Regions from separate parts of the Homo sapiens genome. Here region 1 is linked to region 2. The links come from fine-mapping of genetic effects on gene expression. A gene starts in region 2. The other region holds a variant in brackets. All regions are shown on one strand. Distances are between the middles of the regions. Region 1 has its middle 15 kb from the start of QSOX1. Region 2 holds the start of CEP350 (centrosomal protein 350).

Region 1 (16,573 bases), 190 kb before region 2:
CCCTGTCAAAAAGAAAAAAAAGGAGTCATCAGACCTTTTCTTGAGTGATTATGCCACTTTATATTCCTGCCAACAATGTAGGAGAGTTCTGGATGCACAACATGCTTGCCAATATTTGGTGGTGTCGGTCTTTTTGAGTGTTATTCATTCTGGTAGGTGGGTAATACATCTCATTTAGGTTTTAATTTGCATTTCCCTGGTAACTAACAGTTAAACATCTTTTCATGGCTATTCTTAAATATTCGTGTGTGTGTGTGTGAAGTATCTGTTGAAATCTTTTGCTCCTTTTAAAAAGTTAGGTTGTCTTATTACCGAATTGTAAGAGTTCTGTATGTATAGGTATATATGTACTTAAATTTACATATATACATATATATGCTGGATGCAAATCCTTTGTCAGATGTATGTTTTGCAAACATTTTCTCTCAGTCAATAGCTTGTGTATTAATTTTCTTTCTTTTTATTATTATTTTTTTGAGACGGAATCTTGCTCTGTCGCCCAGGCTGGAGTGCAGTGGTGCAATCTCGACTCACTGCAACCTCCATCTCCCGGGTTCAAGTGACTCTCCTGCCTCAGCCTCCCAAGTAGCTGGGATTACAGGCACACGCCACCACGACTGGCTAATTTTCGTATTTTTAGTAGAGACGGGGTTTCACCATGTTGGCCAGGCTGGTCTCGAACTCCTGACCTCAGGTGATCCACCTGCCTCAGCTTCCCAAAGTGCTGGGATTACAGGTGTGAGCCACTGCACCCAGCCTATTCATTTTCTTAATGGTATCTCTTGATAAGCAGAAGGTTTTTGTTTTTATGAAATCTATTTATCTTTTTTTTTTTCTATTGTGGTTTGCACTTTTTGTGTCCTAAGAAATCTTTGCTTATTCCAAGGCCACAAAGATGTTTTTGTATGTTTTCTTTTCTTTCTTTTTTTTTTATGAGACAGGGTCTTGCTCTGCCACCCAGGCTGGAGCGCAGTGGCACGATCACAGCTCCCTGCAGCCTCGACCTCCTAGGCTCAAGCGATCCTCCCACCTCGGCCTCTGAGTAGCTGGAACCACAGGCACTCTACAATGCCCAGCTAATTTTTTATTTTTTTATAGCAGCATGGTCTCACTATGTTGTCCAGACTGGTCTCGAACTTCTAGGCTCAAGCAATCCTCTCATGTCATCCTCCCAAAGTGCTGGGATTACTGGCATGAGCCACCATGCCCAGCCTTTTCTTGTATGTTTTCTTTTATAAATTTTATAGTTTTAACTCTTACATTTAGGTCTTTGATTCATATCAAGTTAATTTTTGTATATAAGGGTAAGGGTCAAAGTTCATTTATCTCCATAGAAATATCCAGTTGTCTTAGCAACATTTATTGAAAGGACTATCTTTTCCTTATGGAACTGCCTTGGCAGAGTTTTCAAAAAGTAATTTACCATATATGTGTGAATCTATTTCTAGACCCAATTCTGTTCCACTAAAATACATGTGTATATGACACATATGGTATCCTTGTGCTGGTATCACACTGCCTTGATTACTATAGCATCATAGTAAGTCTTTTAATGAGATAAAATTTTATATACCATAAAATTTACCCCTTTAAAGTATACAATTCAGTGGTTTTTAGTATAGTCACAAAGTTGTGCCACCATCATCATTATCTAACTTCAGAACATTTTTATAACTCCAAAAGGAACCCATTAGCAATTACTCCCCACTTCCTGTTGACCCCTGAAAACCACTAACCTAATTTCTGTGTCTAAAATGGAATCTTAGAATATGTAGCCTTTTGTGTTTGGATGCTTTTACTTAGCATAATATTTTCGAGGGTCATCCCTGTTGGAGCATGTGTCAGCATTTCACTCCTTTAAGTGACCCAATAACATTCCATTGAGTTTTATTAGTTGAGTTGTTTTCACCTTTTGGCTATATAAATAATGCTGCTATGAACATTTGTGTATATGTTTTTGTATGAACATATGTTTCAGTCCACTTGGGTATATTCCTAGGAGTGGAATTGCTGGAGAGATATTTATTTATTTATTAATTTATTTATTTATTTGAGATGGAGTTTCATTCTTGTCGCCCAGGCTGGAGTGCAGTGGCACAGTGTCAGCTCACTGCAACCTCCGTCTCCCGGGTTCAAGCAATTCTCCTGCCTCAGCCTCCTCAGTAGCTAGGATTACAGGCATGCGCCACTACACCCGGCTAATTTTTGTATTTTTAGTTGAGACAGGGTTTTGCCATGTTGGCCAGGCTGGTCTCAAACTCCTGACCTCAGGTGATCCACCCGCCTCAGCCTCCCAAAGTGCTGGGATCACAGGCGTGAGCCACTGTGCCTGGCCTGTAATTCTTTATATTAATTGGTAGCAATCCCCCAGTTTTATTTCTCTTTTTTGAATTGTTTTGGTTATTCTAGTTCTTAGCATTTCATATGAATTTTAGAATCAGCTTGTTGGCTTCTTTTAAAAAATAGGAAGCCTATTGAGATTTTGACTGAGATTGCATTACATTTATAGATCAATTTAGTTTGCTACATTTTAATTTTTTAATTAGTTAATTTTTAAAACTATGTCCTCCGTGTGGGGTCAGACTCATAGTTAGGAAGCCAGGAATCCAGACTGGATTGCTAAAATCTTTTCCCACATCTTCAGGATGAGAATGAAGCAATTTTCAGATAGCTTATGAGGTAGAATAGGCCCGCAGGCCCCGAAGCAATCTAGCTGAAGACTTCTCTATCATCTTGTCTGTTTTGTACATTTGTTACCTCATGTTGTTTGTTTCCTTGCTGTTACCACTCAGAATTTTAGTTAGTTCTTTGATAATCTACCCTGTCTTAACAGTGCTAACATGGATATTTGGTTCTGAGCTCTGAGCATTTGGTTCAGAGATCTGTGCTGGAGCCAGTGTGGAGGGGGAAGCTAAGGAGGAAGCAAGAGAACTTCAAGGGCATCTCAGACTCGGGAACAAAAGCTGAGCCTCTTGCCAGCTGAAGGGGCTCCCTGAGATTATGGGATTTGTCTGTATAAAGGAGTTCCTTAGACAGGACTCTCAGTTACACTCAAAAAGATGCTAAATTGAACTAGCTGTGGCAGGAAAGGGGAACTGATTGCCTCAAAGAGCCAAATAGAGGGTAGGGGAAAGCTGTGACACCATCTTTCCTCTCTGCACTTCTAGTCTCTGTACTTTGGCTTCATTCTCTCAGCCCAGCTGCTTCCAGAAGGCTAGAACTCTGGTCACACGCTTTCATTTTTGAGGTCAGAGAGAAAAGACAGAGCTTCTCTGCTGACCCTAGTTAGAAAAACACTGGGGGGAACTGATTGGCCAGGCTTGGGTTATGTGTTCATGCCTAGATCAGTCGCTATAGTCAGGGAGATGGGTCATCCGGGGCAATGTGCTCATTCCTATAGGTAGGAGAGTAAGCACTGTAATTGGCAGCCTTCACTGGTACTGCATGTTTGGAGTAAGGAAGGCGTACTGTTACCAGAGGAAGAGGTCACGTGGGGCTGTACAGACCAAAGTGGACAATGACCACCACTGGGAGGGATAAGGTTGTACGGATCAAATGGGAGAATGAAAGAGTCCAGCACAGGGCTTGAGACAGAATAGGGCTAAACTCATAGGAAAGGCTGAGGTGTGAGTACATCTGGAGGCCACAATACCCATGTTAAGATGCGTCATGAATGTACTGAGATTTCCAGGTGTTTAGGAAAACTTGACTTAAGCCACTTGGGTGCAAAAAAGGGGGAGAGAAGCATACAGAGAAAAAAGAATGTCTTGCAAGAATTTGCCTAGCCCACGTAGGCATTCAAGTAACGCTTGCTGAATAATTGTCCAAATGAAATATTGAGTGTTTTTATGGTCCCAGGTGATGACCACATTAGCATCCAGATGTCTCATTCTTACTTTAAGACAGCCTTGCTCTCAGCAGACATTCTAAAGGATTCTTGAGGCTCCACCCCTTCTTCTCTATTTACCCAGTTGCTCCGTGCTGTTGTCTGTGGAACAAGTCTCCTTTAGAGGATGCTTCTGTTGGACATATGGGCTTTCTGGGCTGGCTGTGCGCAGACATAGCCGTTCATATGCCAAGCTCTGCAGTTGGTGGTTGGCCCTGCCTCACCTGCAGCTGGGTACTGCAACTTCTGGTCTAGTAGGGGGAGTTGGAATGTCTTGTCTACTACTGTACTTTTATAAAAACATAAAATACCCTGTCAGCTACTTGGTGAGCTCAAATTTTTCTAGCTGACATTAGGGGCTCCTCTTCCTAACTTTGTCTTACTACCTGAAACAAGTTACCTTTCTGCCTGTCCTTTCTGGCAACTTGTTTATATTATTAATCTTGTCTTAAAAGTAATCACAAGCCAGGTCAGTGGCTCACATCTGTAATCCCAATACTTTGGGAGGCCAAAGCAGGAGGATCACTTAAGCTCAGGAGTTCGAGTCCAGCCCAAGCAACATAGCAAGAACCCATCTCTACCAAAAAATCAAAATATAAGCCGAGCATGGTGGTGGCATGCCTGTGGTCCCAGCTACTCAGGAGGCTGAGGTGGGAAGATCACTTGAGCCCAGGAATTCAAGGCTGCAGTGAGCTGTGATCACACCACTGCACTCCAGCCTGGGTGACAGAGCAAGACCCTGTCTAAAAAAAAAAAAAAAAAAAAGTAATGACAGCTGCGATTGTCTCCCTTACCATTCACTAATTGTATGAGACCAGATCTCTCTTGTCCTTGCTTGTCTTTGCACGTCCTTGTAGATGCTCAGGAAATGTTGGTTTAAAATAAAAATTATCATAATAGCCATGAATCATTGAGCATCTATATAACCAGCATGATGCCAGGTGCTGGCAATATAGTGATGAACAAAGATGGGCATACTGAGCAGCTAATGAGGATGAAGCTCACCCACAAAGCCCATGTGAGTGCTCGGAGGTGTAGAATGTTTTAGGTAGAGAGAGGAAGCCTGGCTACCTTCAGAAAACACTTCAGTGTTTCTGCTAAATTGTCTAAGTGAACTCCTCAAAGGGGACCTAAACCTCTTAAGATCTAGGAATTTGTTGTGATCCTGATTCTCTAAATGAATACTCATTTATACTTAATTTTGTATTTGTAATTGTGTATTTATTTTCTTAAAGAGAGCCTCCCTCCCCACCAACCCCTATCCCCCTGCTTCCCCAATGGTAAAATATTCAGACTGCAGAAAACCCAAATCCGCCCCTGGTAGTAAATGCAAGACATGGTCCTTGCTCTCTAGTAGTTTACAGTTTAGAGGAAGAGACACTGATCAAAGAGTTGCACAAAAAAGTATATCATGGTAAAGCGTGAGAAGGTAACAAAGAAGAACTGTGGAGTGCCGGGGGTGCAGTAATAGAGAAGGAGTCAGAGAAGCTTCCCTAGGCTGAGAGCTGAAGTTGGGGGAGTAGGCAGCAGTTAGGCAGGGGAGGGGATTCTTTTTTGAGACAGAATTTTGCTCTGTTGCCCAGGCTGGAGTGCAGTGGTGTGATCTTGGCTCACTGCAACCTCCACCTCCTGGGTTCAAGTGATTCTCCTGCCTCAGCCTCCCAAGTAGCTGGAATTACAGGCGTGTGCCACCACGCCCAGCTAATTTTTGTATTTTTAGTGGAGATGAGGTTTCACCACGTTGGCCAGGCTGGTCTCAAACTCCTGACCTCAAGTGATCTGCCCGCGTCAGCCTCCCAAAGTGCTGAGATTACAGGTGTGAGCCACCACGCTCAGCCAGGAGGGGATTCTTAATGCTTCTGCTGCACTGTCACCAGAGTTCTGTGCCCAACTCAGATCTGAAGTAGGTTTCTAGGACACAGAGAGGCAAAGAGGCTGTCCTAGCCTGTTGGTCCCAGAATTCTTCCTGGTCTCTCCCCTCTAGAGTCTTTCCCAGAGCACCTCAGTCCCTGCTTAAAACTTTCCAGTGACTTTCCATCCACTTAGAAAATTCACATTCTGTGTAGACCTACAGGTACTGCCTGCCTCTCAGACAGGGTCTCCCACTCCCCCTGCCCTGCGCTTCTCACGCCACACCACCAACCTGTGACCGCTGGGGTGGTCTTAAGACTACCATTGGCTTAAGTAGTGTTAACTTGGTAGCCCCTCCCCCATGTCATATTCAAATGCACTATCATCTTTCAATATTTTTTGCTGAATAAACTCTTTGGAAGCAATGTTTAGAATTTTGCTTTGGAAATTAACTTTGAGAAACTCCTTTATTTTATAATTGGCTATGATTTCTCAGCAGTTACTTTGCACATGGAGAAGTTACTACAGAGCCAGAAAGTCTAACCAACAAATTGTGCTCAAATGTAATGCAATTTTTTTATGATTAATACATGTAATAGGTAGTAAGGACTTAATTACATCTAGACCATTTAGATAGACGTTTATTAATATGAATTTTGTGAGATCATTCCCTCTCCTCATCTGCAGGTATGTTCTGAAGGCCTAGGAAAGCCCACTGGCCTGGGTGGTGTGGCCGCCATGCCTACAGGATGTCTCTGCTGGCTCCTGCCTCAGGCCCCCGTCCCCGCTGTTCTTTCTGCCTGCATGCTCTTCTTGTGGCTCCTTGAAACGAGTCAGGGAAGGGGAATGCTAAGTGGCCCACTCCCCTTATTTACTCTGTTACTCAAATAGTTTCCTTGGGCTGCCCTTAACAAAGTACCACAAACTGGGTGACTTCAACAAGGCCAGAAGTTCAAGATGAGTGCTTCAAAAATGTATTTGCTCATAGGTCTGGAGCCAGAAGGCCCAAATCCAAGTGTCTTCAGGGTTGGCTTCTTCTGAGGGCTGCGAGGGAGGGTGTGTTCAGGCCTCCCTGGTAGCTCGGGCTCTCTCTTAGCCTCAGCCATTCCCTAGCTTGCAAACACAAACTCCTGGTGCTTCCCAGCACCTTCCCTCTGTCTCCAAAGTTCTCCTTTGTGTAAAGACACTGTCATATGGGATTAGGACCATCCTAATGACCTCATCTTAACTTGATTACCTCTGTAAAGATCCTATCTCCAAATAAGGTCGCATTTTGAGGTATGGGATGGGGTTAGTATTTCAGTTTTGTTTTTTATTTTTGAGGCAAGGCAGGGTCTTGCTCTGCTGCCCAGGCTAGAGTGCAGTGGTAAGATCATGGCTCACTGCAGCCTTGAATTCCCGGGCTTAAGCAATCCTCCCGCCTCAGCCTCCCAGGTAGCTGGGACTACAGGTGTGCACCACCATGCCCAGCTAATTTTTGTATTTTTTGTAGAGGTGATATTTCACCATGTTGCCCAGGCTGGTCTCAAACTCCTGGGCTCAAGCAATCTACCCACCTTGGCCTCCCAAAGTGCTGGGATTACAGGCATGGAACACCGGGCCCCAGCCTAGGACCACAACATCTTTTGGGGAAGTACGATTCAACTGATAACACGTTTGTTTATTTGATTTTACAATTGGCCTTCTGTTCTGTACCCAAGGATTCAACCAACCATGGACTGCAAATATTCAGGGTGAAAAAATTCCACAAAGTTACAAAAAGTAAAACTTGAATTTGCATGTGGTGATTACTACACTAATTCCACATGAATGAAGTGATGTGGAGGCATTGTAATAGGTACTATAAGCAATCTAGAGATGATTTAAAGTATATGGGAAGATGTGCATACGTTATGTGCAAATACTATGCCATTTTATATCAGGCATTTGAGCATCTGTGGATTTGGGTATCTTCAGGGATCCTGGAACAAATCCCCCATGGATAGAGAGGGACAACTGTATACCTCATTAATTAGGTCTTAGTTCAAATGTTCTCTCCTGAGAGCTTTTTGTCACCAGCCTCTTTAGAATCCCCTTCCTCCTGCATTACTATATCTTTTCCTTAGCAATGTCATTGTAACAAGAAGCCTCTACATTGGTACTTATAAACTTCTAATTCCATGTTCAAATAAATATATTTCCTCCCTACACTGGCTTGAAAAATGTTTATTCTGATTTTCTGTGTGTTGTTTTCTTTGAGCCATGAATTATTGAGAAATAAATTATTTAATTTCCAAATGTTTGGGATTTTCTTAAATATCTTAATGTGATTAATTTCCAATTTAATTGTATTGGGGGTTATTTTATTTTGTTAATTAGTTTATTTTAGAATCAGATTCTCACCCTGTCACCCAGGCAGAGTGCAGTGGCATAATCATAGCTCAGTGTAGCCTCAACCTCATGTGCTTAATTAAGCGATCCTCCTGCCTCAGCCTCCCAAGTAGCTGGGACTACAGCAATGCGCCACTACAACTGGATAATTTTTTTAATTTAGTTTTTGTAGAGATGGGGTCTTGCTGTATCACCTAGGCTGGTCTTGAACTCCTGGCCTCAAGTGATCCTCCCGCCTTGGTCTCCGGAAGCATGGGGATCATGGGCATGAGCCACTGCATCCGGCCTGAAGTTGTATTTTAAAATGTGTATAGTTTTAACTCTTCTCAATTTCTTGAGCTTTGTTTTTGTGGTCCTGCATATGGTCATTCTTGGTAAAGATGCCACACTCACTTTAGAGTGATGTGCATTCTACAGTTGTTGAGTGTTGTGTTCTGTAATTATCAGTTAGGTCAAGGCAATTGACAGTGTTGTCCAACCATCTTGTCTTTACTGACTTGTTCTATCAATTGCTGAGAGAGAGAGAGAGATTAAAAATCTCTTACTGTAATTGTGGGACTGTCTTTTTCTCTTTTGTTGATTTTTTTTTTTTTTTTTGAGACGGAGTCTTGCTCTGTCACCCAGGCTGAAGTGCAGTGGCGCGATCTCAGCTCACTGCAACCTCCACCTCCTGGGTTCAAGCGATTCTCCTGCCTCAGTCTCCCGAGTAGCTGGGACTACAGG[C/T]GCCTGCCACCATGCCTGCCTAATTTTTTGTATTTTTAGTAGAGACAGAGTTTCACCATGTTAGCCAGGATGGTCTCGATCTCCTGACCTCCTGACCTCGTGATCTGCCCGCCTCGGCCTCCCAAAGTGCTGGGATTACAGGCATGAGCCACCATGCCTGGCCTTTCTGTTGACTTTTGCTTCATGTATCTTAGTCTCTGTTATGAAGAAGAACGCACATGTTTATAATCGTTATGGCTTCCTGATGAATTGATCCTTCTATCATTACAAACTGCCTGTTTTTATCTGTGGTAGTACTTCTTAACCTTGAATTCTGTTTTATCTGTTATTAATATATCCATTATTTTATCTGTTATTAATATATCTATTGCTGTTATTTATCTGTTATTAATATATCCATTGTATTGCTGCTAAGGAGGATATATATATATGAGGAGGATATATATAAAGGAGGATATGTAAATATGTATACATATATATACCCCACATATATATGTGTATATATACATATATACCCCACTTATATATATATATATACACACACATATATATGTATATATATACATATATACCCCACTTATATATATATACCCACACACATATATATGTGTATATATATACATATATACCCCACTTATATATATATACACACACATATACACACATATATATGTATATATATACATATATACCCCACTTTTATATATATATGTATATATACATATATACCCCACTGCAGTCTTCTCAATCTTTTACAGTTTACATGGCGTAGCTTTTTCTATTCATTTACTTTCAAGTTATTTATGTCTTCATATTAAAAGTATGTCTTTTGAGACAACATGTAGTTGGGTCTTGCTTTTTCATTCATTCTCACAATCTCTGCCTTTTAATTGGAGTATCCAATTAACTAACAATGCAATATTGATATGGTTGGACTTATGTCTTGCTTTGTTATCTTCTGTTTTACTCTCTGTTGTTTGTTTTTCCCTTTCCTGCCTTCTTTTGGACTATGTGAATCTTTTCTAGAATTCCATTTTAATGTATCTATTGGCTTTTTGGTTATGCCTCTGCAATTTTTAGTGGTTACGTTAGGTCATTGGTTCTTACAAGGGGGGCAGTGGACATTTACCCCTCCAGTGGACAGTTGGCAATGTCTGAAGGCATTTTTAGTTGACACAGCTAGGTAGGGTGGCACTACTGACATTTAGTGGGTAGGGGTAGAAGCCAGAGATGCTGATAAACATCCTTCATTGCTCAGGACAGCCCCCCACCACAAAGAATTATCTGGCCAAAATGTGAATAGTGCTGCTATTGAGAGACACTAACTTCTCACAGTCCACTTAGAGTTAATATTATACTTTACATAAACTCTTCACAGTCTATTTAGAGCTAATATTGTACTTCACATAAAATGCAGAAACTTCATAATTGTGTAAGTCCATCTGCTACCCTGCTGCCTCTGTTCTTTATAACAGTGGTTCCTGTTATAAAGAACAGTTCCTGCCTGCTGCATATTTTGTACATAAAGTTTTATTGGAACACTGCCACGGCCATTACTTTTGGTTTTTATATGGCTACAAGTGGCAGAGTTGAGTCTTTGTGACAGAGATTCTATGGCCCCAATCCAAATATTTCCTATCTTGCCCTCTACAGAAAATGTTTGCCAACCCGTGCTTTATATTATAGTTGTCATATCTATTAATTATATCTACTTATAAAACCACCCACAAAAAATATTAGTTTTTAAAATTCAAATTGTAGTCATATATTTTTAAAGAAATTAAGAGGAAAAATAGTCTTTTCTATTTATTTAGATAGTAACCATTTTCAATACCCTTTATTCTTCCTTGAAGATCCAAGTGTTGATCTGGTATTATTTTCCTTTAGCATGAAGAAAAACTTTATAATTTCCTGTAGAGCTCTGATGGCAATGAGTTTTCTCAATTTTGTTTTATCTGAAAATGTCTTTATTTGCCCGCATTCTTGAAGGATATTTTCATTAGCTATAGAATTGAATGTATTTTTTCTTTCAGCACTTTAAGGATGTTTTTATGACTATTGATGAGAAATTAGCAGTCATTCACATATTTGTTCCTTGTATGTAATATGTTGTTTTTCTCTGACCGCTATCTCATTCATTTTGCTTTTCAATAGTTTGACTATGATGTGCTTAGACATGGTCCTGTTCATAATTATTCTGCCTCAGGTTTATTGAGTTTCTTAAATCAATAAATTTATGTCTTTCATCATATTTGGGAAAGGTCCAGCCATTATTTCTTCTAATATTTTTTGTTACATTCTCTCATTCTTTTCCTTCTGTGACTTCAACTGTAAGTATGTTAGACACAGGTTCCACAGGTTCCACAGGTTCCACAGATTCCACAGGTCTCTGAAACCCTTTTCAGATTTTTTCAATTTTGTTTTTCTCTCTGTTCTCAGATTGAGTAAGTTCTATTGACCCAACCTCAAGTTTATGGATTTTTTTCTTGATTCATCATCATTCTGTTAAGCCCATTCCATAATTTTTTCTTTTAGATCTTGTAATTTTTAGTCCTAGAATTTTACTTAATTACTTCTATGATGTCTATAGAAACTCTTGTAGATTCTTCTGAGATTCCCTACTTTTCCATTTATTGCAGGTATGTTTTTTCTTACCTCATCAATCATGCTTATATAGCTGCTTTAAAGTCGTGTTTCCTGATTCCAGGATCTGAGTCATTTTGTGATTCTTTTCCGTTGAGAATAGACTACATTTTCCTGGTTCTTTATATGTCAGATATTCTTGGATTTTTTCTAAGACATTGTCAGTGTTATGCTGTGGAGACTTTGGATTCTGTTGTTTTTTCCAGAGAGTTGGCTTTTTGGTTTGGTTTGGTTTTAGGAACAAGCGAGTTAACTTGGCTGGATGTTAGCTACAAATGCTGTATCTTGGGCAGCAGCTCAAAATCAGTTCACGTCTTCTAGCTCAAGCTGGGCTGGTTTGAATGTGTACCACATATGTGTGATCCAGGGCAGCCAGCAATGTGGGCAGTTTATGCACAGAACTTGAGAATTCCCTTCTCTGACTCTCACTTCTGGGATTCCCTCCTCATTTTCTAAATGGCTTTAGGTGCCCTAAACTGTGTCTCCTGGTCTTCAGGCCAGAAAATATTGCTAATTTCCCACCAAAGTTTTAGCTGCTCTACACACAGTACCAACTGCAGCCTGCCTTCAAATTAACTGTCATAAAAATGGGACACTTTATTTTATATTGTTTCCCTCTTCCAAATGTTGACTCTGCTTCAGAATCTGCCTGCCTTTTTCACTCTCCAGTGTCTGTATGCAGTTTGTGTGTGTGTGTGTGTGTGTGTGTGTGTGTGTGTGTGTGTGTTTTCCAGAGATTATATTTTGTATATGTGAGAGGATGAATTCATAGGAAATTATTTGGTCATAGTGAAAACAGAAGACCAGATTTAAACATTTAAAAAATGTGTTTTTATATAAATAAGACTATAGCAATAAACAGAGCTTGAAATAAAAAAATAAGTTATCCACAATCTTTTTTCAGCTCATCTATAGTCCCTTCCATGTCTTATCTTTATATTCATTTTTAACATTGTTATGACAATGGTACACTTATAATTTTGTATCTTTTTTATATATACCACTTACCAATGGTGTGCTGGAAAATGTTTTAACAACTTGCTCTCTGGGGATGGGGTAAGCCCTAATTGGTAGTGTTTGCCAATTTCTCTCGTGTAAATACTCCCACCATGGCTGATTTCATGCTACTGACATGACATCATGGAATGCAGAGTTGGGAAGAATGCACACAATTGGCTCTCTCAAGCCAGTATGGGCTGAGTCCAGCACACCACTAATTACAGTGGTTGTAAAATATTCTGCCAAATGAGTGGGTAACAGTTTACTCCATTATTTCTACAACATTGAATATTATGGTTATTTTTAATGTTTTATAGTCATAAACGTTTATGCATATCTTTGGTGTTTATCTCTTTTTCCTCAAAAAGTTCATTAGGTCAAAATATATATGAAAAATTTTGTGGTTCATGGTACAAATTGTTGTGGACAAGAGTGGCTTTTTTTCTTTTGAGACAGGGTTTTGTTCTGTCCACCATGCTGGAGTGCAGTGGCATGATCTTAGTTCACTGCAACCTCGACCTCCTGGCTCAAACGATCCTCCTGCCTCAGCCTCCTGAATACCTGGGACTGAAGATGTGTGCCACCATACCCAGCTACTTTTTTTTTTTAATAGAGATGAAGTCTTGCTATGTTGTCCAGGGTGGTCTCAAACTCCTTGGCTCAAGTGATCCTTCCACCTCGGCCTCCCAAAGTGCTGAGATTTACAGGCATTAGTCACTGTGCCCAGCCAAGAGTGACTTTATTTTAAATGCTAATCTACCTGACTAACTTCAAGTCCAGGAACAAAATGTCTAGTTGATGTATTACTCTTTCTGTGGGAATACCTCTTCATTTCAAGTTTTGCTTTTCCTCCAAAGCAACCCTTGATGCTGTTGCAGAAATAGGCTGTGATGCTGGTAGCCACCTACACTTCCCAGAGCACGTATACTTCCAGATACATTATATTCCACATACACTTTCAGAGCACATACACTTTTTCCCCGAGATAGAGGCCCTGGGTTTCGGGGGTTGCAGTACAGAGACCTACGTATCTCGTGGCTGCCCAAGAGCATGCTTCTGTCTTTAAGTTGCCCTAGTAAGTGACCTAAAATCAACAAACTGGATTTGACAGCCTCCTGCTTTGGTTTCTGGACTTCTTTGACACTTGGGCATCACTCTGCGTAAATGGCCCTTTCACGGAACAATTGTAATTTCCAAAAGTATTGTGCCAATTGATATGACCACAGCTCTGTACAAAGGTACCAACAATTTTTTGAAAGGGTGCCAACACCTTTTACCAGGATCCCACTGTAAATATAAAATAAATATTATCAGTGTATTCCTTCTCTTCTCATTTCTGTATTAAGATTCTAACATAAAACTCTGCCAAAGGAACGTTCTGGACTCAACATTATGTTATTCCCCAGCTCCTTTTGGGAAACTTGGCCTTGAACAATGCAACAGTAAGTCCATAGAGCTGCCACATAACCAGCTTATGTCATCTACAAATATCACAAGTGGATAAAGAGCAGAAGTGAAGCGTTTGGCAAAATCCCTTGGAGGGGCTATGTGCTTGTTTCTCTTTATATACCTTATCCAGTTTCTTTCCTATGCCTTTCTCCTCCACTGTTTGAATGTTTCTGTGAGATCAGAAGGAGTTCCATTTCACTTTCATCTCCCTAATAGTTTTTTTTTTTTTTGAGACAGAGTCTTGCTCTGTCGCCCAGGCTGGAGTGCAGTGGCACAATCTCAGCTCACTGCAACCTCTGCCTCCTGGATTCAAGCAATTCTCTGCCTCAGCCTCTTGAGTAGCTGGGATTACAGGCGTGCACCACCACGCCCAGCTATTTTTTGTATTTTTAGTAGAGACAGATTTTCACCATGTTGGCCAGGCTGGTCTCAAACTCCTGACCTCGTGATCCGCCCACCTTGGGCTCCCAAAGTGCTGGGATTACAGGCGTAAGTCACCGCGCCGACCTCATCTCCCTGATAGTTTTATCTCCTACTTTCCATTTCGGGGAAAAATGGCATTTGGGGACTGAGAGGAGGAGGAGAGAAGGTATTTGGAGAGGAGAATGTAGTATCTACTTGTGCTGTTATTTTCCTGATCCTTTTATCTTTGGTGACCAGGATGACATGTTGAACTCAGCATGGCTTTCAGCCAGAGCATACCTGTTTCCCATAGACCTCCGATTGGCAGGGGTTAATCATGAAACAGCCTCTTGGCCATCTAGGGGTGCTCCTTCCCCCGACTGTGAACTGCAAAGAGCAGGACCCCTGGTAAACAAGTGCTTGGTAAATGCTGGCTCCTTCCCTCCTCTTCCCTTTGCTGGGAAGCAGGCAGGCTGGTTGGATCCAGGGAAGCAGTTTCGTATGGTAGAATAAAACATGAGCTTGGAGTCAAGTCAAACTAATTGGATTCCTAGGTCCTCAGCTGACCTGTGTTTGATCCTGGACAAAGTCCTTGAGCTCCCTGACTCCTGCTTTTCACTGGGAGAACACTACCTCTCTTTGGTCACAATGAGGCTTATTGATCTATTTTTGTTTTGTTTTGTTTTGTTTCTAGATGGAGTTTTGCTCTGTTGCCCAGGCTGGAGTATAGTGGCACAATTACAGCTCACTACAGCCTTGACCTCCTAGACTCAAGTGATCCTTCTACCTCAGCCTCTTGAGTAGCTGGGACAACAGCCACAGGCTACCAGCCCTGGCTAATTTAAAATTTTTTTTTGTAGAGATGGGGTCTTGTTATGTTGCCCAGGCTGGTCTTGAACTCCTGGGCTCAAGTAATCCTCCCACCTTGGCTGTCCAAAGTACTGGGATTAGAGGCATGAGCCACCCACCCAGCTTATCTGATTTTTGTAAAGTTGCCCCTTCCCAAATCACCTACACAAAAAGCCCTACGTCACCAAAGAACTTTTACAGGAAACTCACATTGGAAGACTTACTGCTTCTTCTTGGGCTACCCTGGAGGGTGACATTCAGCAAATGGCAGGACAGCATCAGGCCCTGGTTTCCCTTCCTTCATCTAGCCAGATGACAGCTGCAGACACTATGGCTGGAGGAGCACCCCATGGGGACCAAGCCTCTATGTGGATTCATATTACTATTGCCCCAGGAAAGTAAACCCAGGCTGGGAGTCTGTCAGGCCTCTTGGGGACCGGGTGGAGGTGGAAGTTACTGCTTACGCTTACGAAGGAAGCGATCTCAGAAGGCAGAGGCCATTGCTGCGAGCTAGACAGACGCTCTCCCTCTGTGCTCATCTCTAGCTTGCTGGGGATCTCCTCACTGGCCAGGTATTACAGGATGGACTCCATCCATAAGGAAAAAACCATGACTCCCACTCAGACAGCGCCTGACTGTCCATGCAGCACTTGCTGCCTCCTTTGATGGAAGTAGGCAGGGCAAGCATGACTAAGATGATGGTGGTGAAGAGACCAAGGCTATAAAAGCTGCTTGGGTTACCTGCCTAGTGAGTAAGAACATACTCCACAGCCCAACCTGAACCCAGCAGACCACCCCCAGGACCGCGCCAGGAAGGTGAAAGAGGCAGCAGAGGCCAGTTCCTTCCTGGGGCAGCGGGCTCCGCTTCTATCATCAGGTTGCTTCCCAGGCTCCAGGGTGAGCCATTCTATACCCTTTTCTCGCTCCTCAAGCCTCCAGCATGCTTTCTTCCCCCTTGTACATTCACACAAGACCTCACTTCGGTCACTTTGATGACAAAATAGAAGCCATCAGACTGGAACTCCTTTTCCTCCCACCATCAAGCTAGAAGCCACCTCGCGCCCAGACTCATCTTCTGTCTTCCCTCCTGCCCCTTCCTCCCATCAACACCGGCCCCTCCACTTGCACTCTGGATCCCACTTTGCTGCTGGTCCCCCAACCCCACTCGCAAATCTCACTTTTTCTCCCCCACAAGGTCAATTCCTTCAGCAAACAACCTGCTCTCTGTCTCTCACTAAAACAAAGTGGAACTCTTGTATGAACATACACCCTTCTCCAGATACTGCCCCATTTCCTCCCCCCTCTTCAAAACTTGACAAGAGTTGTCTGTCTTCACTGCATCATCACCCTGACCTTCATGGCCTGCCCCACTCCCGTCTGCGTTCTGATCTCACCATTCCA
Region 2 (16,573 bases):
ATAAAAGCTAAAGCGTAGTCTAACTTCATTTATAACTAACCAGAGAAACAAACCGTATTAAAGCTGGACGTTAGGAGTCAACCAGCATCATATTATCAAGTGTGTAGTCATGACCCGTTAGTAGATTAAAACAAAACAAAACAATATCGTGGATTGGAGCTAGCATTTTTTTAATGGAACTAAATAGGATTGATTTGCAAATATCAAGTGTATTGAAGGTAGTGAGCGCTTTATTTTATTTTATTTTATTTTTGAGACACAGTCTCTCTGTCGCCCTGGCTGGAGTGCAGTGACGCGATCTCGGCTCACTGCAACCTACACCTCCCAGGTTCAAGTGATTCTCCTGCCTTAGCCTACTGAGTAACTGGGATTACAGGTGCGCGCCACCACGCCGAGCTAATTTTTTTGTATTTTTAGTAGAGATGGTGTTTCACCACGTTGGCCAGGTTGGTCTTGAACTCCTGACCTCAAATGATCTGCCTACCTCGGCCTTCCAAAGTGCTGGCATTATAGGCATGAGCCACCGCGCCTGGCCATGAGGCTGTTTAAAGTAAAACTTTGAAAAGTGAAACTTTTGATTCATTATATGTATACACATACACGTATAACACACATCTATTCTTTTTATTTAAAAAAATAAAAAATAAAGATAAATGTAAAAAATCAACCTTTGGGAGCACAGAACATGGAAAATATATATAGGTGTCCTGGTCAAAAGTTCAAGAGGTTCCTAAACTTTCTCAGTTCACAGACCCCTCAGTATGCCAGTTATTTTTTTCATGGAACCCCTAGGCCAAAAAAATACCTAACAGTTCCATTTACTAAGTAGTTCAGTCCACAACCTAAAAAGTATTTATAGCCTACCAACTTAGTAGCAGATCGAAAAATAAATATGTATAAATTGAAATAAATATTTTTATTACTAAATTACCACAACTACTTAATAGGATGTGTGTACCTACTAGATATTACACAAGTTCTCAAATCTTGAAATCATTTTGGACACCACCACCTTCATTTACTGTTCCAAATTGATTTTTGCATAGTACTTGCTTTTTATCACAGCAAACTCCCAAAACCTAGCGTTTGGAAGACACAGTGTCATCAAAAAAAATGGAACACAATCTCTTGTGTGGTATCTCAAACTGGTAGTTTGAGTAGTGTCCTATAGATGTCAAATATCCCACAGCTATCCAATATTGCTGTTTCCATTAAAATTTCTCAAATAATGCATAGTGTCCAGGTGAGTTACTATGGTGCTCCACAGTACGGCAGGTCCTCCATAACATAGTTTCATTCAATATCATTTCTTCACAATTTTGATGAGAAAAAAATTTTGATTTCCCCACCAGGGCTACCATCTATGTGGAGCCTGCATGTTCTCCCCATGTCTGTGTGGCTTTTCTCCGTATGCTCCAGTTTCCTCCCACATCAGAGAGGTGCACGCATTAGGTGAACTGACATGAATTGGCATGTCTATATGGTCCCAGTCTGAGTGAATGTGGGTGGGTGGGTGGGTGTGTGTGTGTCTGTAAATGCTACCTGCAATGGAATGGCAGCCTATCTTGTGCCCTACTTGCCGGGACAGGCTCCAGCCACCTGCCATCCTGAACTGAAATAAGTGGGTAATTATCTTGTTTTTAGTATTTCTTAAATGTATGCATAGGACCCATTTATTTCAATGTTTAATATTAGAGGTGTTTGGGGTCTTAGAAGTTGCAGTTTCCAAGTACTTATGGACAACATTAAGTGAGGATTTACTTCAGTGCACAGTTTAGGAATACTGGATTTAAGAAACACTGATCTAGCCTACGGGTTTACTTTGTAAAGTAAGAAATAAGACTTAAGGCTACAAAGCTAGGAGAAAAACAAATATATTTATTATAGATTTTCCTAAATTTCAACCTTCTGCCAACAAAAGTTTTTTTGTTTGTTTGTCTGTTTTGAGCCAGAGTCTTCCTCTGTCACCTAGGCTGGAGTGCAGTGGTGCAATCTTGGCTCACTGCAACCTCTGCCACTCAGGTTCAAGCAATTCTCCTGCCTCAGCTTCCCCAGCAGCTGGGATTATAGGAGCCTGCCACCATGCCCAGCTAGTTTTTTACTTTTAGTAGAGATGGGGTTTCCTTATGTTGGCCAGGCTGGTCTGAAGCTCCTAATCTCAGGTGATCTGCCCGCCTCAGCCTCCCAAAGTGCTGGGATTATAGGCATGAGACACCGCACCCAGCCAACAAAAGTTTTGTTTGTTTTGAGATGGAGTCTTGCTCTGTTGCCCAGGCTGGAGTGCAGTGGCAGTCTTGGCTCACTGCAACCTCCACCTCCCTGGTTCAAGCAATTCTCCTGCCTTGGCCTCCCCAGTAGCTGGGATTACAGGCCTGCCACCACGCCTTGCTAGTTTTCGTATTTTTAGTAGAGATGGGTTTCGCCTTGTTGGCCAGGCCGGTCTCGAACTCCTGACCTCAAGTGACCCACTTGCCTCGGCCTCTCTAAGAGCTGGGATTACAGGCGTGAGCCACCAAGTCCCAGCCCTTCCATCAACAAATGTTTTGACACAGGATCTAATTATGAGACACTCTGTTGATGAAATGTGTAGATCTCTAAAAATCACATTCAAAAATACATTTATATCACTATTTAATAGAAGAAAAAATTTACTTCCTTTTTTTAGAAAAAAGTTTCAAAAATTATAAAAGTGATTCTTACAATAAAACCATACAAAAATGTCTAAAGTAAAAAAGAAAAGTCATCCACTCCCTCAGGAATAACATGTTTAATGTCTATCCTTATAGACCTTTTTCTATTCACATGCAAAATGAAAACAAAACTACATTTGTCTATGTGTTTTTTAAATAAATCATATTCTATAGTATAGTGCAACTTATTTTTTCACTTAATTTTATATCATGAACATTCTTCCAAGTCAATACATAATTGTAACAGCAAACACTTATGTGGCGCTTATTAATGCTTATTTAGGGCCTAACTGTTAACTCATTTAATTCTCATGGTACCCCTGTAACATGAGAACTACTAGTATATCCAATTTATAGTTGACTTTAAGTAATTCGCCAAGAGTCACAGCTAGAAAGTAGTGCAGTTAGGTTTTGAATCCAGAAGGTCCACCGCATGGTTCCAGGAGCTGAAGGATATGCTCAGCTGCTGCTCATGAAGTAAATATAGATACCCTGAAACCTGTTAACAACTGCACAGTAATTCACAGCATAAAAATACTAGACTTTTAACTATTAGCCTACCAACAGACATTTAGGACATTTTTAAATTATTTATAAATGTTATTGACATCTTGAAATAATGCTAATATAAACATTCTTATACAATTCCTATGCTGTTAAAATTTATGTAACATAAATTTTAAGCAGGAAATGATTCTATCAAACAATATATATACTTTTAATCTTGATAGGGAATGCCAAATTTCCTTCCAGAAGGTTGCTCCAATGGTATCAATTTATAGTCCCAACTACAGAGGAAAGGGTTCAGATTCATTTTTAAGTTAACACTTTGGATTCATGAAAAAAAAGGCCCATTTTGAGTTTTTAATTAATACTGAATAGACTGCCAAGTTGATCACAATTATGTTCTGATTTTATAATTATCTGACATATTAAACAAATGTAGACTTAGCAGCTGTGCAATGGATTCTTCTCCCAGTTATGAAATCAACTATGCATGAGATATCGCCCCTATACAACCTTCTGTTTTCTTATGTATAAAATATGGGAATTGGACTAGCTGGCCTTGAAGAATTTAAACTCCCAATACTGAGATTAAGAAGTGACTTAAAGTTATTACAAGGCTATAATTATAGTACTAGTATAACAGGTTAGGGTCTTAAAGTTTATATTTTCTTTAAATTACCGTAACCTGTTGCCAGAGCACCTAGGCAAATCATTAAAATAGTAAATGAAGTTTCCACTGTGGCTTATTCCCAGTGGCTTTTTAATCCCAGGCTGTCATTCCCTTGCTACCCAGCAAATCTGAGCATATCTCTGGAATATATTCCCAAGAGTTGAGGTGTGCTTAGGAACTAAGAACTAGTCTTTTGTTTTGTTTTGCATTTAAAATATTATTCTGGGACTATTCTTTAGTCAATTTCTTCAATTAGTATTTATTGACTATGTTACCATATGCTAGGCACTGGGTGCATAATAGTGATTAAAGGATCTCTGCCATCATGGAACTTACAGACCAGATGAGAAAGGCAAAGAATAACTCAAAATAACCACAAGTAAATGTAAAATCACACTTATGATAACAATGAACAACAACAACAACAAATCAATACAGAAAAAAATACTATGCAATCTGATGATTTTTTTACACTATAACACTAAAATTTGCCTCATGTTGCAAAAATAACAATCACAATTATATGCAGAGAATTAACTTTTTAAATCATCAGTTGTCTCAACAATAAAATCATCAAGATATTACTACTTTTCAGTTATGTTACTGATCATGTGGCTTGAATGTTTGTTTTACATAACTAAGAGTATAAATGACTGAAAGAATAAAGATGACAGAACTGAGTATCCAAAGTGAAAGATAATAAATGAACTACACTTTAATAATCTTGTTCAAGCAAAAAGTATATACATAAAGAAGTAAGTGATCCATCATAATTCATGACTTGTCAATAATTAACAAAACGTTATAAAAATACTAATGTTTTTAAAGAACTGACGATCATCAGCATAAGGGGCAAGTGGCATGTAAAAAGGAACAAAAATAGAATAATTTTTTAATATTTTAAAATAACACCAAATGCCAGAGCACCTATATTAATATTTAGTTTAAAATAAAAATAATTCCACATTATCTGCAGAAATGAGAGGCATTCACATAAATGATCTTCCTTGTGTGTCAGTTTCCACGACTGCAAAATAAGGATATCTGCCATACCTACTTCACAAGATCACTGTGAAAACTAAATAAAATAATGTATATAGAAGCACACCAAAAACTGATGTCAGTTATTTTAGACTTCTTTTTTGCTCCCACTATAAATTATAGCAATTTAACAAATAAAATTGATTATAGCAGTACTTCATCTCCTTTCTTCTGCTCATATATGGTAGAAGTGTTATAAAATGGGCAAAAGACTGACAATCAGAAGCAGAAGGAAAAAATCCAAAAACTTTATAATTCATAAATTGATTGCCCCACAGAAGGTTGGCTGTTTAAGTATTAACGCTCTTACATGACACACACACCAATTTATCTCAGAAAATCAAAGAAATATGTTCACATACGTATGAAATTTTTTACATATACAACTTGCCATCTCTACATACACAAAATTTTGCTACTGAGGATGAAGAGATACAGAGATACACATGTATTTATCCACATATACAATGTATTCTAGCTTGAAGTTTATTTTCAGATTACAGTATCTTAAATTTAATGCACTGACAGTTCAAATGATTCAGATTTATTTCATTACATTAAATAAAATTTGTCAATTTAGCACACCGAAACTAATTATTATACGCCCATGGCTTTGAAGCAACTTCCAGCATGGGTCTAACAATCCCTCAAAGTCACAATTCCATGTCATTAGCAGTGCATTTCCTTGTTTAAAAACAATATATTAAACGAAGAAATTTTCAGAATGGAGGGCAACTTTTAGTATTTTATCATTGTTTCTACAGAACTTTTCAGATTGTTACTAGCTCTGCCAAAGATAGTCTTTCTTTTAAAACTCTTCAAATACAGGGCAGGAGGTATCGTTAACATGGCAACAATAACGACTTCCCCAAATTCAAAACAAGGATCACCATCAAAACAAAACAATCAGGTGGAGTACATGGATATTGATCACTATTTCTGACAACCTGTTTTTTCCCATATGAAGGATTTGCTACTGCATTAAAACATTAAAATCTATGCCTATGTGCAACTTTCTATCTGAATATTTAAAATCCAGGCAAATTCCAATTCATATCTTGTGACATTAGCTAAATATTACTTAGCATGTTGAGCTGCATTTAAAAGGCAGAGGAAAATACTGACAACTTCCAAAACATAAAGCCTTTTAAATCTTTCCCCAAATTATCTGTGAATAAACTACCTTCAGCAGCCGCTAGACTAGAGTAGATCAAAGTTTTCCCTATACTTGAGAATGTGATCCCCACTGAAAAGGAACAGAAACTGATCATCCCTGCCACTGGAGCCAGTCCCCGGAATCTCCCCAAATACGCCTGATCGCCAGATGAAGAAGGGACACTTCTCCGGGCAGCAAAGGCTAGAGGTATCTTACCTCTGCAGGCTAGAGGAGGGGTGGAGGAGGCGGGAGGACACTGGCACGTAAGGAAGGAAATTCCGTCTTCAGCAGGCACTGGTGGGACCCGAAACCTAGGTCCCCGAAAAGCCTCAGAACCCAGGGAGGTTCCCCGAGGGGGACGCCAAGCAGGGCCAAGACTCTCCGCGCCCGGCCCCGCCTCTCTTGCCGCCACCGGGGACCCGGGACCGCGGACAGAGACAGTTGAGGCTGAGCGAGACTCCGCGGTCCCAGCCAGGTCCTACAGGAGCTCACCTGAGAGTGTCGCCTCCGCCCTCGGCTACCACGGTGCATCCCGCGGAGCCTGGCGGAGGGTGCAGTGACGCCGCCCCGACCGGCCCCAGGGCTGCCCGGCCTGGCCTCCCCGCTCCGGGGACGCACCGGGTGCCCTCCTCGCACCGGCTCCGGGGATCCGCCGGTCCGCTGGGAAGGAAGACAAGGCGGAAAGGCTGCCTCCCCTCCCTCAGGGCAAGCCACCCCCCGAGCTGCGGCTCCCTGCAGTTCTCTCTGGCGCAGGTCTGGCCCCGCTCCCCGGCCCGGGAGTCACTTCGTCAGGGGCGGCCCAGTCGCCATTACAGCCCAACAACTGACACGGAGGAGGAGCGGCGCCAGCGGCAGCGGCTGTGGCGGCGGCGCGAGGCAGGGCGGGAGCAGTCGGGCCCAGGCAAACCTCGCGAGAACTGTCCCGAGACAGTGCCACAGGCATGCCAACCTTCGGTTAGGGCCATGTTGAGTGTGGCCGAAAGGTGGGAGCGAAATAAAACAAGGAGCAGAACCGCGAAGAAGCCATGTTTGGTGCGTCGAAGTTTAAACTCGTAGGACTTGGGAGGAGCCAAGGTATATCCGCAGAAGAGACCACCCCTGCCCTTTCGCTTTGACGCTCATTGGGCCTTTTGGCTGCGCATTTCACCCCGGGCTGAGAAAACAAGCTGGGGATTCGACAAGAATGAACTCAAAGTCTGGAAACGGCAGCTTCTGAGAGTTTACAATGTTTCACCAACTGTCGTCCAAATAAGTCGTCACCCCTGTCAGAGTAGTTGCAGCTCTGCCGTTACCCACTGCTGTCACTGTGGCCGTTTTATTCGCGAGGGTTACAGTTCTGTTTAGCATGCATCTAATGACTTAAGACTCCACGCAAGTAAAACGGAGTTTCCTCCCATTAAGTATTGGCTTTGCTTTAACAGTGCTTTGAGAGGCTCTCTGTGGCCAACATATCTTCTCATATCTTTGTCCTCGTTTCCCAATCTCCGCGTGGTGAAATCATCTATCAAGACTTGGCTTAAAGGACCTCTCTTCTGCAAATAATGCCATCTTCCGCTAGGTGCTCACTGCACACAGACTCGCCGCCCACCACTTCTGTCCACCTTCTGAACTCCGATAGTTATTTACCCAGAGACTGTTTCTCATCTTTAAGTGTCGTGAAGACTTTAAGATCTGTTTTATCTCTCTATACCCCAAAATGGCCTAGCACAGTAACTAGGACATTGTAGGTGCTCAATAAATGTTTGTCGAATATCAATGACAGCAGGAGGCAGTAAATGGTCCCTCTTTGTAGGGCCTACAGCTGTGCCTGAGTAGGATGTACAGAAGTCCTGCATACGTGTGAAGTGTCTCCAGGAAGCTGCACTGGAGGGGACAGGAAATGTGGGTAATCGTATGGTGCAAGTGGTAGCAAAAAAGACAACATAAGGAAAATGTTATTTAGGTTTTGCCCAGTCTTGCTGTTTAAAGCCCTGTGTTAGATGCTTTTCATGCGCTATTTTACTGAATGTAAACAACCACCTTATTAAATATACTCACTTTTTTAAAACGAAGAAACACGTACTGGCCGGTCACAGTGGCTCACGCCTGTAATCTCAGCACTTTGCGGGGCCGAGGCGGGTGGATCACGAGGTCAGGAGTACAAGACCAGCCTGGCCAAGATGGTGAAACCCCGTCTCTACTAAAAATACAAAAATTAGCCGGGCGTGGTGGCGGGTGCCTGTAATCCCAGCTACTCGGGAGGCGGAGGCAGGAGTATCGCTTGAACCTGCGAGGCGGAGGTTGCAGTGAGCCGGGATCGCACCACTGCACTCCAGCCTGGGCAACAGAGTGAGACTCCATCTCAAAAAAATAAAAAAAAAGAAAGAAAGAAAGAAAAAGAAACAAGTACTGAAAAAGCTAAGTAATTTGCCCAATTTTATACCATCAATAAAAGGGAGCTGTAAGCTTTGGGATCTGCTTTGCCCCAAAGCCTGTTTATACTTTTTCAGCCCCATGCTATCCCCTTGACAACAGAGAAGACACCAAAGTTCTGTCACTGTGCTCAGAGCAGGGTTACCCTGGTATCAGCCTATGCACAATTTCTACTTCTTATACCTTGTGTTGGTCTGTCTTCTCCTCGCCTCCTAAATTCCCCAAGCACATCAATGTCTTTCTTTTCTAATATCCCGTTACTCTTGTGTTTACCCTACAGATTGGCCCTGAATCTATCAAGTTTTGTACTAGTTGCATATAGTTTCATGAGAGTAATTAATCTCTGGAACAAGATTGGAGGTTTACTGTGGAAAGGTTTGTGGCCCTTCCCAGACGTCTCCGCAGTGTTAGGCCGGTAATAGGTATTCAATATGGCTCCCTTGTTTCTCCTACTTTTTAGTAGACACTAAGATTGCATTTTTCTTTATATTCTTTGTTGATTACTGTGGCCTTGACTCTCACCACTCTTTGGATAACTGGATCTTGGCCCTAGACTAAATCTCCAATTACCCGTTACCCATCTTCACATAGATACAGAAGTCACCAGCACCTTCAGCTCCCATATTAAGGTTATCATTTTTCCTCCCTCAGTCTCACAAAGCCAGCTCCTCCTCGTTTCCTCTGTATTTCTGTTCATGGCCGTCACAGAACACTCTTCTGAGAACTAAGAGAACCAAAGTTTCAGAAATATTATATACTCCTCTGTACGCCTTGCTCCCACCCAGTTATGAAGTCTCTAAATACCACTGATGCATATTTCTTATATGTACTTCCCTTTTGTCTGATTGCACCACTGCCTTCCTAATTTAGACTGTCATTTCTACTGCCCAAATGATTATAGTAGTATTTCCACAGTTCAGCTTGAGTTTTGTCTCTATCATGTCTCTACCTGCCAAGGTAAGTAAAAACTTTTCGCCTCAGCCATCAAGGCTTTTCTCAGTATGGCACCAACCTAACTTTCCATCTCCCTTAAGTAAGACAGCACAATAAAGTAGAAAGGGCAGGAATGTGACATCAGAAAGACACTTATTCAAATCTTGGCTCTATCACTTACTTGCCTTATGACCCCTCAAGAACCTCAATCTTCTTGTCTATATCAAGGCTAATGATATCTACCCTGTAGGGTTGTCTTAAAGATTAGAAATAATACCTGTCAAGAGCTTGACGTTAAAAGACAGAAATAAACGGTAGCTAATGTCACGAAATGGGAAGTGATACACTGACTGAGAATGTTACATTCAAGCCACACTGGATCGGAGAAACAACCTGTTCATTCCTACCTCTAGGCCTTTGTTTCCTAACCTGGAACACATATTACCCCAGCTCGCAATTTCTGCCACATTCTCTAAGTGCCAACTGAGAAGCTAACTACTACAGAAAAAAATCCTTGATTGCTCATACTTTCCAGGTGCTCTTCCACCCCTGAACTGTGTGATGCTGTGTCTCCTGCATAGAGCGGTATCTACTATCAGTATTTCTGCATGTATCTTATACATCATGATCATGTTAGATTCTAAGGACCTTTGTCTCCTTCATAGTGGATTAAAAGCATGAATTCTGCACATAGTGAATGACATCATTACATCGCCAAAGCTATATCTATTTCTTAATTCGTTGTCTAGAGATCAATATCAAATTTTGCATTCCCAGGAAAGAAAACATAGCTATTCACCTAGAATTTAAATTCTGGGTTTAAACCTTGGCTGAGGCCGGGTGCGGTGGCTCACCCCTATAATCCCAGCACTTTGGGAGGCCAGGGTGGGTGGATCAGTTGAAGGCAGGAGTTCGACACCAGACTGGCCAACATAATGAAACCCCATCTCTACCAAAAATACGAAAAATTAGCCGGGCATGGTGGTGAACGCCTGTAGTCCCAGCTACTTGGCAGGCTGAGGCATGAGAATCAGTTGAACCCAGGAGGCAGAGGATACAGCGAGCCAAGATTGCACCACTGCATTCTGGCCTGGGTGATGGAGTGAGACTCTGTCTCAAATAAATAAATAAATAAAGCCTGGCTGAGCTACTTACTAGCCATATAACTTTGGTCAGGGTACTTAACCTCTTCGTGACTCAGTTTCCACTTCTGTATAGTGGAGATTGCAATGGTACCTACCTCACTGGGTTGTGTAAGAAAAGAAATAACACATGTAGAGGAATATAAAATGTGTTCAGAATATACAAATATATAGAGACAGAAGGTAGATAAGTGATTGCCTGGGGCAGAGAAGTGGAATAGACATAGGGGAGGGGAGGAGAAATGGGAAATGACTACTAGTGGTTATGGAGTTTCCTTTTATTTTGAGAGGGAGTCTCGCTCTGTCGCCCAGGCTGGAGTGCAATGGCATGATCTCAGCTCACTGCAACTTCTGCCCCCCAGGTTCAAGCGATTCTTCCGCTTCAGCTTCCTGAGTAGCTGGGATTACATGCTATCCGCCATCATGCCCTACGAATTTTTGTATTTTTGTAGAGACGAGGTTTCACCATGTTGTCCAGGCTGGTCTTGAATTCCTGACCTCAGGTAATCTGCCCACCTCAGCCTCCCAAAGTGCTGGGATTACAGGCATGAGCCACTGTGCCTGGCCTTTTTCTTTTCTTCTTACAGAGTTTCGCTCTTGTTGCCCAGGCTGGAGTGCAATGGTGCGATCTCGGCTCACTGCAACCTCTGCCTCCTGGGTTCAAGTTATTCTCCTGCCTCAGCCTCCCATGTAGCTGGGATTACAGGCATGCGCCACCACACCCAGCTAATTTTGTATTTTTAGTAGAGATGGGGTTTCTCCATGTTGGTCACGCTGGTCTCGAACTCCCAACCTCAGGTGATCCGCCTGCCTCAGCCTCCCAAAGTGCTGGGATTACAGGCGTGAGCCACTGTGCCCGGCCCCAGAGTTTCTTTTTTATGCGATGAAAATGTTCTAAAATTGATAGTGGCAACAGTTGCACAACTCTGTGAACATACTAAGACCCATTCAATTGTATGCTTTAAATAGGTGAATTGTATGATATGTGAAGTATATATCCATAAAGCTGTGTTGAAAAAGAAATAACACATGTGAAGGACATATAGTTGGCACATAATAGGTGCTCAAAAATGTTGCTTATTTTTACTATTTTTAATACACTGTATTAGTGCCTTGCATATAATTAGGTATTCAATATTTGTTGAATTAAATTTATTTGTTGAATTTAGATTCTAGGTGAATAGTGATGTTTTCTTTCCTGGGAATGCAAAATTTGATATTAATCTCTAGACAACAAACTAAGAAATGGAAAGATACAGCTTTGGTGCTGTAATGATGTCATTCACTATTTGTAGTTAATTGAATAAAAATATGTGTCAGGATTAACTAAAGGCATTCCTAAGGAAATGTCAAGCCTAGATGCCAAGTCTGATCTGTAATCTTGTCCACCATCTTTTCAATAATAAATTCAACCATAACAAATCTCCCTTTCATTTTAACAAACTATGCAGATACCAAGTTTAGGGGTAGGTTTTCTGGTTACTTTTATTTTTTCTAGAGTTGGTCTTTTGGCTTAGTCTTGTACTTTTCTAGGGGATTTGTTATTCTGCTGGGCAGAATTAAGAAAAAACTGAAATTTATCAAAAATAAATGTCTTTGATAAGAAAATAGGCATAACCATCTATCTTCATGTATATAAATATTTGTGTGTATATATGTGAGTATGTGTACATGAGCATACAGCAAAGGAAATATTGATTATAGAAACCTCTGTGATATCAAATCCAGAATGCAAAAAAAAAAAAATAGGCATATCTACAAAGGCAGCATTTAACCGTATTTGACTACAATTGAAAGTTAAAAATTGAAATTTTTGAGTGAGGTCCGAAAACAAACTGATAGCAGCAACCAGAGTAAGTTGTGAGACAGGAGCACAAGATGCACATTTTAATTATTTTTATTTTTTAGAGTAGGTCTTACTCTGTCACCCAGGCTGGAGTGCAGCGGCACGATCACAGCTCACTGCAGTCTCAACCTCTGGGGCTCAGGTGATCCTCCTACCTCAGTCTCCCCAGTAGCTGGGACTACATGCACAACGCCTGGCAAATTTTTGTATTTTTGCATTTTTGCAGAGACAAGGTCTTGCCATGTTGCCCAGGCTGGTCAGGATGCACTTTTTTTTTCTTTGATACAGAGTCTCGCTCTGTTGCCCAGGCTGGAGTGCAGTGGCGTGATCTCAACTCACTGCAACCTCCGCCTCCCGGGTTCAAGCGATTCTCCTGCCTCAGCCTCCCGAGTAGCTGGAATTACAGGTGCACACCATCACACCTGGCAAATTTTTGTATTATTACTAGAGATAGGGTTTCACCATGTTGGCCAGGCTGGTCTCAAGCTCCTGATCTCAAGTGATGTGCCTGCCTTGACCTCCCAAAGTGCTGGGATTACAGGCATGAACCACTGCGCCCGGTCCTTAAGATGCACATTTTAAGAGGAGATATATGAGACAAAGTATGTGATTCTTGAACCCCCTCATGCAAGACCCTTCCACCTGGTCACTGATATGAAAGGATGGAGAAATTGTAGATTCAAAGGGTTTGACAGGAAGATTTCTTTGGATAGGCAGTGGGGTGCAGAGGTGGCTTCTTCCTTACCTCAAGCTCGTAGTAGGGGCATTGAGAAGACAATATGGAGAGCTTGATGCGTGGGCCAAAATCTGAAAGGCAGAGTAGCCTGTGGCTGGATTCAGGCCTGAAAAAGGCATAGCAACCTTGACAGCAGAGTAGAGGATGGTGGCAGGGAAGGTAAGTGTTGCTGCTCTAAAATGGGAGTTAGGCCAGGTGCAGTGGCTCATGCCTGTAATCCCAACACTTTAGGAGGCCGAGGTGGGCAGATCACTTGAGCCCAGAGTTCGAGACCAGCCTGGGCAACATGATGAAACTTTGTCTCTACAAAAAATTAGCTGGGCTTGGTGGCACAGGACTGTAGTCCCAGCTACTCAAGAGGCTGAGGTGGGGATATCACTTGAGCCGAGGAGGTCGAAGCTGCAGTGAGTCATGATCGTGCCACCACACTCCAGCCTGGGTGACAGAGTGAGACCCTGTCTCAAAAAAAAAAAAAAAAAAAGAATAGGCATTTTCCTAAAGAAAAGAAGAAGAAGGAGGAGGAGTAAATTAAAATCCCAGCACTTTGAAGTCCAAGGTGGATGGATCACCTAAGGTCGGGAGTTCAAGACCAGCCTAGCCAACATGGCAAAACCCTGTCTCTACTAAAAATACAAAAATTAGCTGGGCATGATTGTGGGTGCCTATAATCAGCTACTCAGGAGGCTGAGGCAGGAGAATTGCTTAAACCTAGAAGGTGGAGGTTGCAGTGAGCCAAGATCACACCACTGAACTCTAGCCTGGGCGACAGGGCCAGACTCTGTCTCAAAAAAATAAAATAAAATAAAATGGAAGGGATCCCCCTAAGGAGGCAGCCTACCAGCTTGAGTGGACCCCAGAGAAAGAGGAATATTTGGCTACAGGACACTGGGAGTGGCCACCCAAAGGGGAGGCAATATACACATCCAGAGAGTTGTAGCTGCAGAGGCTGAGCAGGAGAATCCTTAAAGAACCCAGGACCTCTAAGAGAAACAATGGGCTTTACCTATCTACCAAGCCTGGGGTAAAGCCACCTTACAACAGTACCAGTCACGTAAGAATGTTCTTGTATCCCTTACGGCTCTTCCCTGACTCCTCAGTTCCCTGCCTTCCACCCTGGGCAGGGTAGGAATAATAATTAGCAAACCTGAGGAAACGGATATACTCCAGACAGGAAAGGAGAAAAGAAGGACCACGCCTCACTTCATGGAAGGAGGCAGCACTAATGCAGGAAGTCCTAGATCAAAACGGATAGAAGTTGTACCTTTGAGTAAAGATTAAAATGTTGATTCATATACTGGGCTGAATATTTTATTACTAAATTAATACTGTGTTTGCAAGCTAATGTGATATAAGACTTTTATTAACTACAATGGATGAGAAAAGTCATGGGGCTTGCCTGAGTTTTTACGCAGGAGTAAAAGGAATTTCCCCACTTAGGACAGTGAGAGAACAAAATAAAGTTGCTTCTATTATTACACCCCTGAGTCTTGTTTAGTCGCATGCATGAATAATGACCTTTACCAAAGACATAACCTTTACCAAAAGGAAGGATTCTTTTTGTTTGTTTGTTTTGAGACAGGGTCTCACTCTGTTGCCCGGCCTGGGGTGCAGTGGCGCGGTCAGCTAATTTTTGTATTTCTTGTAGAGATGGGGTGTCGCCGTGTTGCCTAGGCTGGTCTTGAACTCCTGGGCTTAAGGGGTCCTCCTGCACTGGTCTCCCAAAGTGTTGGGATTACAGGTGTGAGCCACCACAACTGGCCCAAAAAGAAGGATTCTGAGAGAACCTGAGCCAGCAAAAAGTAATGGTAGAGATAGAAAAGCAGAAAGCCAGTCATAGAAGCATCAATAACATTCCACAGGCAAGAATGAAATGATAAAAGGAGAAAGAAATAGGAAAAAGAGAATTAAAAAGCAATAAGCAAACATGGTTTACCTTTGGAACATTGAATAAAAGGAAGAAATTATAAAGAAAAATTGAAAATTAGCAGCAACAGTCCAGAAAAGTTCAATGCTTATAAAAACCCTAAAAATCATTTTATTTTATTTTATCTTATCTTATCTTACTTTATTTTATTTTATGTTTTTTGAGACAGGGTCTAGCTCTGTCCTCCAGGCTGGAGAGCAGGGGCATGATCTTGGCTCACTGAAACTTCCCAGGCTCAAGCCATCCTCTCATCTAAGCCTCCTGAGTAGCTGGGACTACAGGCATGCGCCACCACACCCACCTAGTTTTTGTATTTTTTGTAGAGATGGGATATCACTTCATTGACCAGGCTTGTCTCAAACTCCTGAGCTTAAGTGGTCCACCCACCTCAGCCTCTCAAAGTGCTGGGATTACAGGCATGAGCCATTGCATCTGGCCTTATATTTTTTTGACACAGGGTTTCACTCTATGGGCCAGGCTGGAGTGGTATGACCACAGCTCACTGTAACCTCAGACTCCTTGGGCTCAAGTGATCCTCCCATCTCAGCCTCCTGAATGGCTGGGACCACAGGTACATGCCACCACACCTGGCTAATTTTTACATTTTTAGTAGAGACCAGGTCACATTGCCCAGGCTGGCCTTAAACTCTGGGCCCAAGCCATCCTTCCACCTCCACCTTCGATAGTGCTAGAATTATAGGCATGAGTGGCCACCATGCCCAGCCTAAAAACCAGTTTCTGAAAAATGGCAAGATGCTTTATATCATTAGCAATCAAGGAAAGACAAAATAAAACCATAATGAGAAGTCATTTGATACTTTTGTCAGAGTTTAAGCCAAACTTTATATCCAGATTTGCAAAAATTAAAAGGTCTGATGTTATTACATGTTGGCAAAGATGTGAAACAGTGGGAGTTTTTATTCACTTCTGAGGGCTGTGTAAGTTGGTACAATGATTTTATAAAACATTTTGGAAATATGCAGTAAAACTGAAGATATGACCATGACCCAACAATTTCATTCAAAATAGTCCACATTCTCAAACTCTTTGTTACTAGACCAATAAGATAAAGAACTCATGCAAGGATGTAAATCAACTATGTCACTAAATATACTATTTAGGGATGAGCTGACTTTTTTTTTTTTTTTGAGACGGAGTCTCACTCTGTCCCCCAGGCTGGAGTGCAGTGGCGGGATCTCGGCTCACTGCAACCTCCGCCCTCCGGGTTCACGCCATTCTCCTGCCTCAGCCTCCCCAGTAGCTGGGACTACAGGCGCCCGCCACCACGCCCAGCTAATTTTTTGTATTTTTAGTAGAGATGGGGTTTCACCGTGTTAGCCAGGATGGTCTCGATCTCCTGACCTCGTGATCTGCCCGCCTCGGCGTCCCAAAGTGCTGGGATTACAGGCGTGAGCCACCGTGCCCAGCCAAGCTGACTTTTTTTAGATAAGACTTCCTTAATGAAGGAGACAGTATGATGATATATATTTTTACACAAGCTTCTTATCTCACTGCA

Evidence for each region. PIP is the estimated chance that this variant, and not a neighbour inherited with it, causes the effect. A credible set is the group of variants that fine-mapping cannot tell apart.
Region 1: its variant is the best candidate, but not a certain one, in a credible set for the expression of CEP350 in whole blood (INTERVAL, PIP 0.56).

What each region holds. Positions count from the first base shown.
Region 1 is chr1:180,131,752-180,148,324 of GRCh38, reverse strand. No RefSeq gene overlaps it. Among named protein-coding and RNA genes, the nearest start is that of QSOX1, 15 kb to the left of the region's middle. The variant C/T (reference allele first, on the strand shown) is at 8,831.
Region 2 is chr1:179,945,126-179,961,698 of GRCh38, reverse strand. CEP350 (centrosomal protein 350) reads right to left here and starts at 6,889. Exons shown (of 38, transcript NM_014810.5): 1 at 6,557-6,889. LOC101928933 (a long non-coding RNA gene) reads left to right here and starts at 9,221. Exons shown (of 4, transcript XR_241158.4): 1 at 9,221-9,433. RefSeq lists a silencer at 6,455-6,904 and enhancers at 6,692-7,193, 9,284-9,393.